4 separate regions of the Homo sapiens genome follow, and regions 2, 3 and 4 are each linked to region 1. Evidence: fine-mapped expression QTL. A gene starts in region 1. Each other region holds a variant in brackets. All regions are shown on one strand. Distances are between the middles of the regions.

Region 1 (2,682 bases):
TGAAATAAATAGTCACACAAATGACTATGTAATTGTGAGTTGTGATATGAACTGTGAAAGAATAGTACAGAGTTCTTTGTGAAAGTTTACTGAGGGAATTGATTTATACAATGGGGGTCATGGAAGATCTTTGAGCCAGTGACATTTAAGCTTCGACCTGAAAGCCAAAAAAGTGGAAAAATGGACGAGCCAGAAAAAGCAACATGTGCAAAAGCCCTAAGACAGTTCAGAAAGTGAAGCATGTGCAGTACAGTTTAGTAAAAAGGAGGCAGAGTGCAGGGAGAGCCCCAGGTGGCAGGATATCAGAAGGATCAATACAGAAATTCCCGAGAAAAGTCCAGCATAGGAAAACAATATGGAAAAACAAAAAACAACAATGCTCAAAATTTACAATGTTCTCACATATGTTGCCTCAGTTAATCCCTAGGAGAAGTGTGTGCCGCAGGGAGGACAAGGATAATTATGGTTATTCCTACCATTGAGGATTAAAGTTTAGTTTGGGACAAAGTCATGCAGCTTTTGGTTCCATGGTTCATATCACAAGGCAAACTCTGTGGGTTCTCTGGGAAGTTGGAAGGGAGTGAATGTATTGAAGCAGAAATGACCGACTCCAGCCTGGCCAACAGGGTGAAACCCCATCTCTACAAAAAGTACAAAAATTTGCCCTGTGTGTTGGTATGCTGCAATATTGTACTGTGCTCCAGCATGGGAGACAGAGGGAGACCTTATCTCAAAAAAAAAAAAAAAAGAAAGAAATAAAGGAAGAAAGAAATGACCTATGGCTAGGGCTATGCTGAGTATCTGAAGAAAGAAGGCTTTGAACTATACGTTTAAAAGCAAGTACTTCTAGGTTGCCACTCCCTGCCTGCACTTGAGGGATTTATCTCTGGGTCAAGACAGAGAACGAGTCTTGCATTAAATTACATTAAATTAAATGAATTAATTTATGGCTGGGTGCAGTGCCTCATGCCTGTAATCCCAGCACTTTGGGAGGCTGACATAGGAGGATTGCTTGAGCTCAGGGGTTCGAGACCAGCCTGGGCAACATGGTGAAACCCTGTCTCAACAGAAAAAAAAAATTAAAAAAATTGTAAAAAAAAATTATTTATTTTCAACTTTTATTTTAAATTTAGGGGGTACATGAGTTGGTTTGTTATCTGGGTATATTGTGTGATGCTGAGATATAGGGTACGGAGTCTTGCATTTTAGAAAGTGATGAGTCACTTTCAAAGTTGACAGTTCTATAATTCCCTGATTTACATATCAGGACAAAATTTGAGCATAGGCTGGTGATTTCTGACTTGAACCTAAAGGTCTGTGGAATCGGAAGGGTTCATCAAAATGAGAAACTACAACTCCCGGCAGGCCTCGGGGCTGGGTCTTCTTCCCCGCCCCTCCCTCTTTTTCCGCCAGGGCTGGGAACGACCAATGACGGTTAGTCATTTGAATAGACCAATAATATATTAAACGGTTCAGGTTGAGGAGGGGCGGTCGAGTCATCCAATCGCACGGAAGAGGTGAAAACATATTAGCCAATCCAAATATGTGGGGGCGGGACGTAAGGTGGGGCGGTGAAAGAAGTTTGCTGACGAAGATGGCGACTGAGGCACAGAGTGAAGGGGAGGTGCCAGCCCGCGAATCCGGCCGGAGGTGAGCTGAGTTTGGTCCAGTTTCCTGGGAAACGCGGCCTTGGGCTGGTAGTCCTGCCGCCTTTGCCTTGGGTCACGGAGGCGCACGGTTCGGGCTTTGTTTCTTTCTCCCACGGCGTTTCTCATCGTCGCGCCTGCGGGGGCTGAGGCGCGGGGGTCGGGCCTGGGCGCTGGACTCCAGCCAAACCCCCCGCTCGGTCCTGCCGGTGCCCGAGGGGGCTCCTCCCGCTGCGCTGGCTGCAGACGTCCAGCTGGGGGTGGCAGCGCTGATCGCTTTGGCGCCGAGACACCTCTTGATGGCGAGGAAACGGAAGTCCAGGGCTGGTTAGCGAATTCCTCACTGTTGCACACAGCGCTTCACATCTTCTCCGAGGCACTTTGTGCGTTCAGGTCCGAGCAAGGATTTGAGTGTCAATTAGAAACAGTGTTGAGTCCTTGGGCCAGTTTTTAAACCTCTCTCGACTTCAGTTTCTTCATCTGCAAAGGGACGTGAGGATGCCTATTTCCAAGTGTCAAGATTGAATAAGACAATCCATTTAAAGCTAGCACTGAGTTTAGCCGATAATGACAACTCTACGCAATAGATTTTCTTCTTCCTAGTAGAACAGCTAAGGAGCAGATGGGAGAGGGATCTGTAGTCCAGGACATCATGACTTTATTTCCACAGGATGTTCTTTCCTAAACAGCCACACCGAGATTTAGCGTTTTCAGGAGAGAATTTCGAGGTGGTGTTGCCTTAGCCTTGAGACCTAAGTTGTCTTAATTGATTACAATTTTGTTTTTGGTGTAATTCAATAGATTGAGTTTATTTACGTTGCCTCAGTGTAACTCAGTAAAATACTTCGGTTTGGCGTCTTTTGGTTCCATTTGTACCGAATAAGAGATTCCAAGAATCTTGGGAAACTAATAACTTTGTGACTCGGCTTCTTCCTGAGCCCAGATGAGCGTGGTTGAGTGTGTTATTTAAAATATCATACGGGGCCGGGCATGGTGGCTTACGCCTGTAATCCCAGCACTTTGGGAAGCCGAGGGG
Region 2 (2,682 bases), 33 kb after region 1:
ATTTTCTAGAAATGTTACCTGCCCTTCCTAAACCTGGAATTATTGAGGTTAAACAGCTTAAATAACACACTGTAATCATTTTTACATCTATGTGAGTTGTACTCAAATGGTTATTAGTGTCCTTTGAAATTCTCATTATCCAGGGGACTGTTTTCATTGATAACCTTTTTAGTCTGTTAGGGAAGAACCAATAATTCTGACCCTATTGGGAGCTGCCTGTTATAAGGAGCAGCTTGTGAATAAGGACATTCATTCTCATTTTTCATTCTCATTTTTCTTTTAGCTGTAAAATATCTGAGTGGGGAAAAGTGGAGTGAGTAGCATTATCAAAGGCATGTGTGGATCTTTTTTTTTTTTTTTTTTTTTTAAATATAGAGATGGGGTTTCACCATGTTGCCCAGGCTGGTCTCGAACTCCTGGGCTCAAGTGATCTGCCCACCTTGCCCTCCCAAAGTGCTGGGGTTACAGGCATGTGCCACTGTGCCTGACTTGGATATGTGTTTATTTCTCTTGGGTATATACCGAGGAATGGAATTTCTTGGTCAAATGATAACTCTCATTTTTTGAGGAACTGCCAAAATGTTTTCTAAGTGGTTATATCATTTTATATGCCCACCAGCAATATAGGAGGGTTTAATTTTCTCTGCATCTTTGCCAACATTTTTTATTGTCAATCTGTTTGTAGTTATAGCCATTGTAGTGGATATGAAGTGGTATGTCATTGTGGTTTTGATTTATAGTTTTTTGTTTTGTTTTGTTTTTTCTTTTTTTTGAGATGGAGTCTTGCTCTGTCGCCCAGGCTGGAGTGCAGGGGCATGATCTCGGCTCACTGCAAGCTCCGCCTCCCAGGTTCACGCCATACTCCTGCCTCTGCCTCCTGAGTAGCTGGGACTACAGGCGCCCACCACCATGCTGGGCAAATTTTTTTGTATTTTTAGTAGAGACAGGTTTCACTGTGTTAGCTGGGATGGTCTCGATCTCCTGACCTTGTGATCCGCCCGCCTCGGCCTCTCAAAGTGCTGGGATTACAGGTGTGAGCCACTGTGCCCGGCCTGATTTATAGTTTCTTGATGGCTAATGATACTGAGCATACAAAGCCTTCTTGGCCACTTGTATACCTTCTGAAGGAATGTCTATTCAAATCCTGTACACATTAAAAAAAATTTTGGCCGGGTGTTGTGGCTCACGCCTGTAATCCCAGCACTTTGGGAGGCTGAGGCAGGCGGATCACAAGGTCAGGAGATCGAGACCATCCTGACTAACACGGTGAAACCCCGCCTCTACTAAAAATACAAAAAATTAGCCGGGCGTGGTGGCGGGTGCCTATAGTCCCAGCTACTCGGGAGGCTGAGGCAGGAGAATCGCTTGAACCCGGGAGGCGGAGGTTGCAATGAGCTGAGATTGTGTAACTGCACTCCAGCCTGGGTGACAGAGCAAGACTTTGTCTCAAAAAAAACAAAACAAAACAAAACA[G/AAACAAAACAAAACAG]GTTTTTTAATCTTTTTATTGTTGAATTGCATTGACATTATTTTGTTATTATGTTTTGCTGTAGTCTTTGAATTGTGTTTCTGCCTGAATCTTTTTTCCCTCTTTCTTTGATGGGAGTTGAGGGGAGGATAATGGTGATAGCACTGATTTTTCTTGCTGATATTTTCTCCCCACTTTGCAAATTCTCTTTTGTCCTCAAGATTTGATGCAGTTTGATGATAAAGGAAACAAGACCAATATACCAGACAAGGACCGGCAAATTGAGGCTCTCCAGTTGCTCTTCCTCATTCTCCCTCCTCCTAATCGTAATTTGCTGAAGTTATTGCTTGATCTCCTATACCAGACAGCAAAGAAACAAGACAAGAACAAGATGTCAGCCTATAACCTTGCCCTTATGTTTGCACCCCATGTCCTGTGGCCAAAAAATGTGAGTGTTGACGGGAAGAGTAAAGATTGCTTGGTTTTCTTGGGCTGGGCCTCATTCTATGGCTGTACATTGGTGAGATTATCAAGGGTCCAAGGTCTAGCCTTCAGCTTTATGAGGTTGGGAACTTACTTTATTAGTTCATTGAAGAGTCATCAGACCTGAGAGGGCCAATTCCTGCTAACCTCACTTATAAATCAATCTCTGGTAAACCTACATGGCATTGTATTAGTAGAAACTCTTAGTGGGAAATTATAACTACTGAATAAACTAGAATACTCATTTTGGCTGTTCATTGTGGAATCCTTAACAGGAAAGGCTTCTTGGGAAATCAAATTAGTTTCTGAAGATCAAATGTTATAAAATTAGAATAGAGCTGTGTGATCTTATGGGATAATGTCACCAAGCTTATGGATTTATAGATGAGATGACACTTGGAGCAATCCTGCCTTGTCCTGACTTTTGTATTTCCTGTAGATATGTAGTCTCCTTGGATAAAGCTGAACTTGCTTCTTCTTATGGAGACCATGGTCTTCTCAGTGACTTACAAGAGAAATAAACTCACTCTCTTTTTTTTTTTAAATGCCTGAGGGATAAAAACACAGAGAAATAAATTCTCTGAAGTCTTTTTTTCTGTTTTTTTGAGACAGGGTCTCGTTTTGTTGCCCACGCTGGAGGAGAGTAACACAATCACTACTCACTGTAGCCTCATCTAAAGTCTTTTAAACAACTTGTTGACCTGGAGGTACATAGCTCATATTCCTGCCCACTTATAATATGGTTTT
Region 3 (2,682 bases), 80 kb after region 1:
TTCTTTATATTCTGTTTCCACACTACCTAGTGCAATGCCTGGCACATACGAGGCCTTTGGTGAGGGTGGGAAAGTAAGGTGGAAGGGTGGGTGGGCGGAGGCCCGGAAAGATGTGTACGGGAGGTCCAGGGACACTTCCTGGAGCTGTTACTTAGAGACGAGTTACATAAGGACGGGGGCTTGGGGCGCTGTGGGGCAGAGGTGGATGTTTTGAGGGCCCAGAGTTCATTCATTCCGTGTGTATTTATTTAGCTGGTGATGTTTCACAGGGAGTCGTCAGGGATGTCAGAGTCTTGGGTGGGGGGTTGATGGAAGGGAGGTGCTGGATGGTCCAGGAAGGTAGGGCTGTCAAGAGTCGGGGCTGCAGATGAGAGGAGGAGGGAAATGGAAGCCCTGAGGGGTAGACAGGAAAGGGTAGGATAGAGTGTGTTGTGAGAGAGTCAGGCTACACTGCAGGCATCGTTTCCCCAAAATGACTTCTAGACAGTACTTTGGATAAACAGGTGTTTTGTTTTTTTTTTTTTTTTTTTTTAAAGACAGAGTCTTGCTCTATCCCCCAGGCTGGAGTGCAGTGGCACGATCTTGGCTCACTGCAACCTCTGCCTCCTGGGTTCAAGTGATTCTCATGCCTCAGCCTCCCAAGTAGCTGAGATTATAGGCACAACTTGTTGCCCAGGCTGGAGTGCAATGGCACGATCTTGGCTCACCGCAACTTCTGCCTCCTGGGTTCAAGCGATTCTCCTGCCTCAGCTCCCGAGTAGCTGGGATTACAGGCATGTGCCACTACGCCAGGCTAATTTTGTATTTTTAGTAGAGACAGGTTTCTCCATGTTGGTCAGGCTGTTCTCAAACTCCTGACCTCAGGTGATCCGCCCACCTCAGCCTCCCAAAGTGCTGGGATTACAGGTGTGAGGCACCGCGCCCAGCTGCTAATTTTTATATTTTTAGTAGAGACGGGGTTTCATCATGTTGGCCAGGCTGGTCTCAAGCTCTTGACTTCAGGTGATCCACTCGCCTCGGCCTCCCAAAGTGCTGGGATTACAGGTGTGAGCCACCATGCCTGGTGATGAACAGTCTTTAATAGTGTTTAATATGTGATAGAAAAATATAACTTATATGTTAAGTCTGAATTTCTAGATTCTTTAGGACCAGGCTAAAGTGTATATTTGGGGTTGTTTTGTTTTGTTTTTTAGAGACAAAGTCTCTGTCATCCATCCAGGCTAGAGTGCAGTGGTGCCATCATAGCTCACTGCAGCCCCTAACTCCTGGGCTCAAGCAATCCTCCTGCCTCAGCCTTCTGAGTAGCCGCGATTACAGGCACACACCACAGTGCACAGCTAATTTTAAAATTTTTTTTTAGAAATGGGGTCTTGGTATGTTGCCCAGGCTGGTCTCATATTCCTGGCTTCAAGTAATCCTCTTGCCTTGCTCTCCCAAAATGCTGGGATTACAGGCATGAGCCACTGTGCCCACCTAAAGTGTGTATTTGAATTTGTATCAAATTTAAAATGTTGAGGAAGAAATAGAAAAGTGGCCTGCATATGTGATAAAATTACTGAAAGTTTGCTAAA[G/C]TTTGGTGAAGATTACCATGGGCGAAATGGTGAAGGGGAAGATGACAGGGTAGTTTTAGGCACAGGAGTTCCTCCACAACCGAATAGGGGCTCCACTGACGGAGGGGGTGGGAGGGGAGCAGAGGGGAGAGCAAAGGAAGCTGTGTTTTTGTTTTGTTTTGTGTTTTTCTTTTTGAGACGGAGTCTTGCTCTGTTGCCCAGGCTGGAGTGCAGTGGCGCGATCTCGACTCACTGCAAACTCTGCCCCCCGGGTTCACGCCATTCTCCTGCCTCAGCCTCCCGAGTAGCTGGGACTACAGGCATCCGCCGCCACGCCCGGCTAATTTTTTTGTATTTTTAATAGAGACGGGGTTTCACCATGTTGGCCAGGATGGTCTCGATCTCCTGACCTCGTGATTCACCCACCTCAGCCTCCCAAAGTGCTGGGATTACAGGCGTGAGCCACCGCGCCCGGCGGCTGTGAGGGCTGATAGGGCACTGGTTCTCAAACTGACCAGGCAGCCAAGTCACCTAGAAGTCTTTCTGAAGCATGGCCGGGCCTTACCCCTGGAGTCTCTGATGCAGGTCTGAGGCCCAGGAACTTGCATTTCTCATTGGTTCCCAGCTGATGCTGATACTGTTGGTCCAGCATGACACAGAACCACTGATGCAGAGGTGGCAGTGGGTGTGCGGTTTGTGCCCTGTGGTGGGTGTGGATACAGGGAGGCCGCCCACTGCGGGAAGTGGAGGGGCTGGTGTGGCTGGGAAGACCCCCAGGCAGAAAGGTGGGATTGGGCCTTGGCCCACAGGATGAGAGCAAGCTCACGAGCTGGCGCCTGGTGCTGTGCACACAGTGGGCGCCGAGGCGGGCAGGGGCCCAGGAGGGCGGCAGCTGGAGCTGGTCCTCCACAATTAGGAGGGCTGATTGCCTGGGCCACACACCTGCAGCATAGTGCCAAAGGGGAAAAAGGGAAATAAATCCAGACCCTCTGAGAGTGCCCCCAGGAGGCTGCCTACTCTAGTTTTTCTGCCATTTTGATTAGCTCTGACAGAAAGGAAACCAATTTCTCCTGAGCGTAAATGTCTTAGGCATTTGTATGCCTTATCGCATTTAATCATCATAGTCTCGTGA
Region 4 (2,682 bases), 27 kb after region 1:
ATCTTCCAGATCCCAGAACTGTAGATCCACTGACAGCTTGCACTGCAGTGGAAAAGCTGCAAACACTCAATGCCAGCCTGTGAAAGCAACCAGGAATGGGGATGTACCCAGCAAAGCCACAGGGACAGAGCTGCCCAAGACCATGAGAACCCACCTCTTGCATCATCGTGACCTGGATGTGAGACGTGGAGTCAAAGGAGATTATTTCAGAGCTGTAAGATTTAATTACTGCCTTGTTGGATTTCAGACTTGCATGGGGTCTGTAGCCCTTTGTTTTGGCCAATTTCTCCCATTTGGAATGGGTGTATTTACCCAATGCCTGTACCCACATTGTACCTAGGAAGTAACTAACTTGCTTTTGATTTTGCAGGCTTATAGGCAGAAGGGACTTGCCTTGTCCCTGATGAGACTTTGGACTGTGGACTTTTGAGTTAATGCTGAAATAAGTTAAGACTTTGGGGGACTGTTGGGGAGGCATAATTGGTTTTGAAATGTGAGGACATGAGATTTGGGAGGGGCCGGGGCAGAATGATATGGTTTGGCTGTGTCCCCACCCAAATCTCATTTTGAATTGTAGCTCCCATAATCCCCACATGTCATGAGAGGAACTCGGTGGAAGGTAATTGAATCATGAGGTGGTTTTTTTCCCTGCGTGAATAAGTCTCATGAGATCTGATGGTTTTATAAAGGGCAGTTACCCTTCACACACTCTCTTGCCTGCTGCCATGTAAGATGTGCCTTTGTTCCTCTTTCGCCTTCTGCCATGATTGTGAGGCCTCCCCAGTCATGTGGAACTGTGAGTCCATTAAAGCTCTTTTTCTTTATAAATTACCCAGTCTTGGGTATTTCTTCACAGCAGTATGAAAATGGACTAATACAGGGGTATAGTAGGCATTGGGAAACAAAGAACAGGGAAGAAAATATTTCTGAGATTCAAAGGAGCTTTGCCAGGAGTATAGCCCAATGTAATGTAAGAGTGGAGAACCAGCTAAGATCAGGAGCCCTAGAGAGAAGAACCTGTCTGAGCAGAGGTTGGACTTAGATGATGACGAATGGGTCAGAGGCATCCAGAATTGAAGGATTTTAAAGTAAAACCTATTTGTGGAC[A/G]TGGGAAAAGCTGAATTAATTACTGTTTTATGTACCTGTAAATGCCTTCCCTTCTGTGAGGCTTTGTGGTTATAAGGAACAGTGTTCAAGGGCATCTGGCTCAGTTAAAGGAAGCTGACTATAAGGAAACCTCTGCCTTTGCGTGGAGTCAGGACCAAATAACCCAATGAGTAGTGCATAAGAAACATACAAAAATGATGTCCCGAAAGATTTTCTTCTGTGTTTTTCAGTGATGCCATCTGCAGTTTTGTGATCTGCAATGATTCTTCCCTTCGAGGTCAGCCCATTATCTTTAATCCTGACTTTTTTGTGGAGAAACTCCGACATGAGAAACCTGAGATTTTCACTGAGTTGGTGGTCAGCAATATCACAAGGCTCATCGATTTACCTGGAACTGAGTTGGCTCAGCTGATGGGGGAAGTGGACCTTAAGTTGCCTGGCGGGGCTGGCCCAGCATCAGGATTCTTCCGGTCTCTCATGTCTCTCAAGCGAAAGGGTAGGAGATGTGTTTGTGAAGGGTGGGCAGGCCTCAGCTGCTCCCTGGGCTTCTCTCTCAACATCTACACATTCACCGAAGAGTTGCTATTAACTTAAAGCATTTTTTGGCCATTTTTTCAGTTTTTATAAGTAGTAACACCTTAAGTAATAGTAATACAAATTATAAAAACTGTCTAGATAAATAAATAATTAAACTAAAGCAAATATTTTCAGTCCCTGAGAGAAGACATGATTAACTTAGGTAGTCATCGGGGCATCTTGATTTTCATGCCCTATTAATATGTGAAAATAATATTTAAAAACCAAAGTTACATAGCTAGAGACTATAGAACAGAATGCTTGAATTTTCTTTTTTTGAAGGGATGGGGTCCCACTTTGTTGCCGATGCTGGAGTGTGGTGGTGTCATCATAGCTCACTGCAGCCTTGAATTCCTGGGCTCAAACTCTCCTTCTGTTTCAGCCTCCCACTAGCTGGGACTACAGGTGCATGACACCATGCCTGACTGTTCTCTATTTTTTGTAGAGATGGGGTCTCACTATGTTGCCCAGGCTGGTCTCAAACTCCTGGCCTCAAGCAGTCCTCCCACCTCAGCCTCCCAAAGCGCTGGGATTACAGGTGTGAGCCACCATGCCTGGCCTTCTGTTTGTTTGTTAAATTAAATACTAACACGCTAGATATCTCCTTACTTACTAGATATATGCTTCTTACTTGAATAAGAAGATGGTCTTTCCCTTCAGGGAACCTACAGTCTAATATTGAACTTAGAGAGAGCTGATTGAGAGTTGTCCTGCTCGCGTTTTCTGGTGCACTTCCAGTTCTAAGGTTTTTGTTTACTGACCATGTGAAAATGCTTGCTGAATTGTAAAATAGGATGCTTGAGTGGTTTTAGGTATGATGATTTTGTACTATTTGTGTGAAATATAGCCCTGTCATATCATATGGTTTTTCAGAAAAAGGAGTGATATTTGGGTCCCCACTGACGGAGGAAGGCATTGCCCAGATATACCAACTGATTGAGTATCTACACAAAAGTAAGACTACTTGAAATTTTATCATTCTTTGTTTAATGAAGAATT

Alleles and levels. Positions count from the first base shown, and alleles are read on the strand shown. Sizes are in standard deviations (SD) of each study's normalised expression. Not every link is listed here.
For the expression in visceral fat of the gene that starts at base 1,585 in region 1, allele G in region 3 goes with a higher level than allele C (small effect, 0.26 SD a copy in GTEx).

Evidence for each region. PIP is the estimated chance that this variant, and not a neighbour inherited with it, causes the effect.
Region 2: its variant is the best candidate, but not a certain one, in a credible set for the expression of ARHGAP19 in monocytes after Pam3CSK4 (Quach 2016, PIP 0.57).
Region 3: its variant is the best candidate, but not a certain one, in a credible set for the expression of ARHGAP19 in visceral fat (GTEx, PIP 0.58).
Region 4: its variant is the best candidate, but not a certain one, in a credible set for the expression of ARHGAP19 in subcutaneous fat (GTEx, PIP 0.51).

The regions. Positions count from the first base shown.
Region 1 is chr10:97,291,540-97,294,221 of GRCh38, reverse strand. ARHGAP19 (Rho GTPase activating protein 19) reads left to right here and starts at 1,585. Exons shown (of 12, transcript NM_032900.6): 1 at 1,585-1,650. The coding sequence starts at 1,595. ARHGAP19-SLIT1 (ARHGAP19-SLIT1 readthrough (NMD candidate)) reads left to right here and starts at 1,549. Exons shown (of 15, transcript NR_037909.1): 1 at 1,549-1,650. RefSeq lists a silencer at 1,864-1,913 and enhancers at 1,258-2,014, 2,015-2,682.
Region 2 is chr10:97,258,620-97,261,301 of GRCh38, reverse strand. ARHGAP19 (Rho GTPase activating protein 19) reads left to right here. Exons shown (of 12, transcript NM_032900.6): 5 at 1,674-1,900. ARHGAP19-SLIT1 (ARHGAP19-SLIT1 readthrough (NMD candidate)) reads left to right here. Exons shown (of 15, transcript NR_037909.1): 5 at 1,674-1,900. Among named protein-coding and RNA genes, the nearest start is that of ARHGAP19, 33 kb to the left of the region's middle. The variant G/AAACAAAACAAAACAG (reference allele first, on the strand shown) is at 1,474.
Region 3 is chr10:97,211,093-97,213,774 of GRCh38, reverse strand. All of the region lies in intron 11 of ARHGAP19-SLIT1 (ARHGAP19-SLIT1 readthrough (NMD candidate)), which reads left to right. Among named protein-coding and RNA genes, the nearest start is that of SLIT1, 26 kb to the right of the region's middle. The variant G/C (reference allele first, on the strand shown) is at 1,572.
Region 4 is chr10:97,264,781-97,267,462 of GRCh38, reverse strand. It overlaps ARHGAP19 (Rho GTPase activating protein 19), which reads left to right. Exons shown (of 12, transcript NM_032900.6): 2 at 1,338-1,603; 3 at 2,557-2,637. ARHGAP19-SLIT1 (ARHGAP19-SLIT1 readthrough (NMD candidate)) reads left to right here. Exons shown (of 15, transcript NR_037909.1): 2 at 1,338-1,603; 3 at 2,557-2,637. Among named protein-coding and RNA genes, the nearest start is that of ARHGAP19, 27 kb to the left of the region's middle. The variant A/G (reference allele first, on the strand shown) is at 1,108.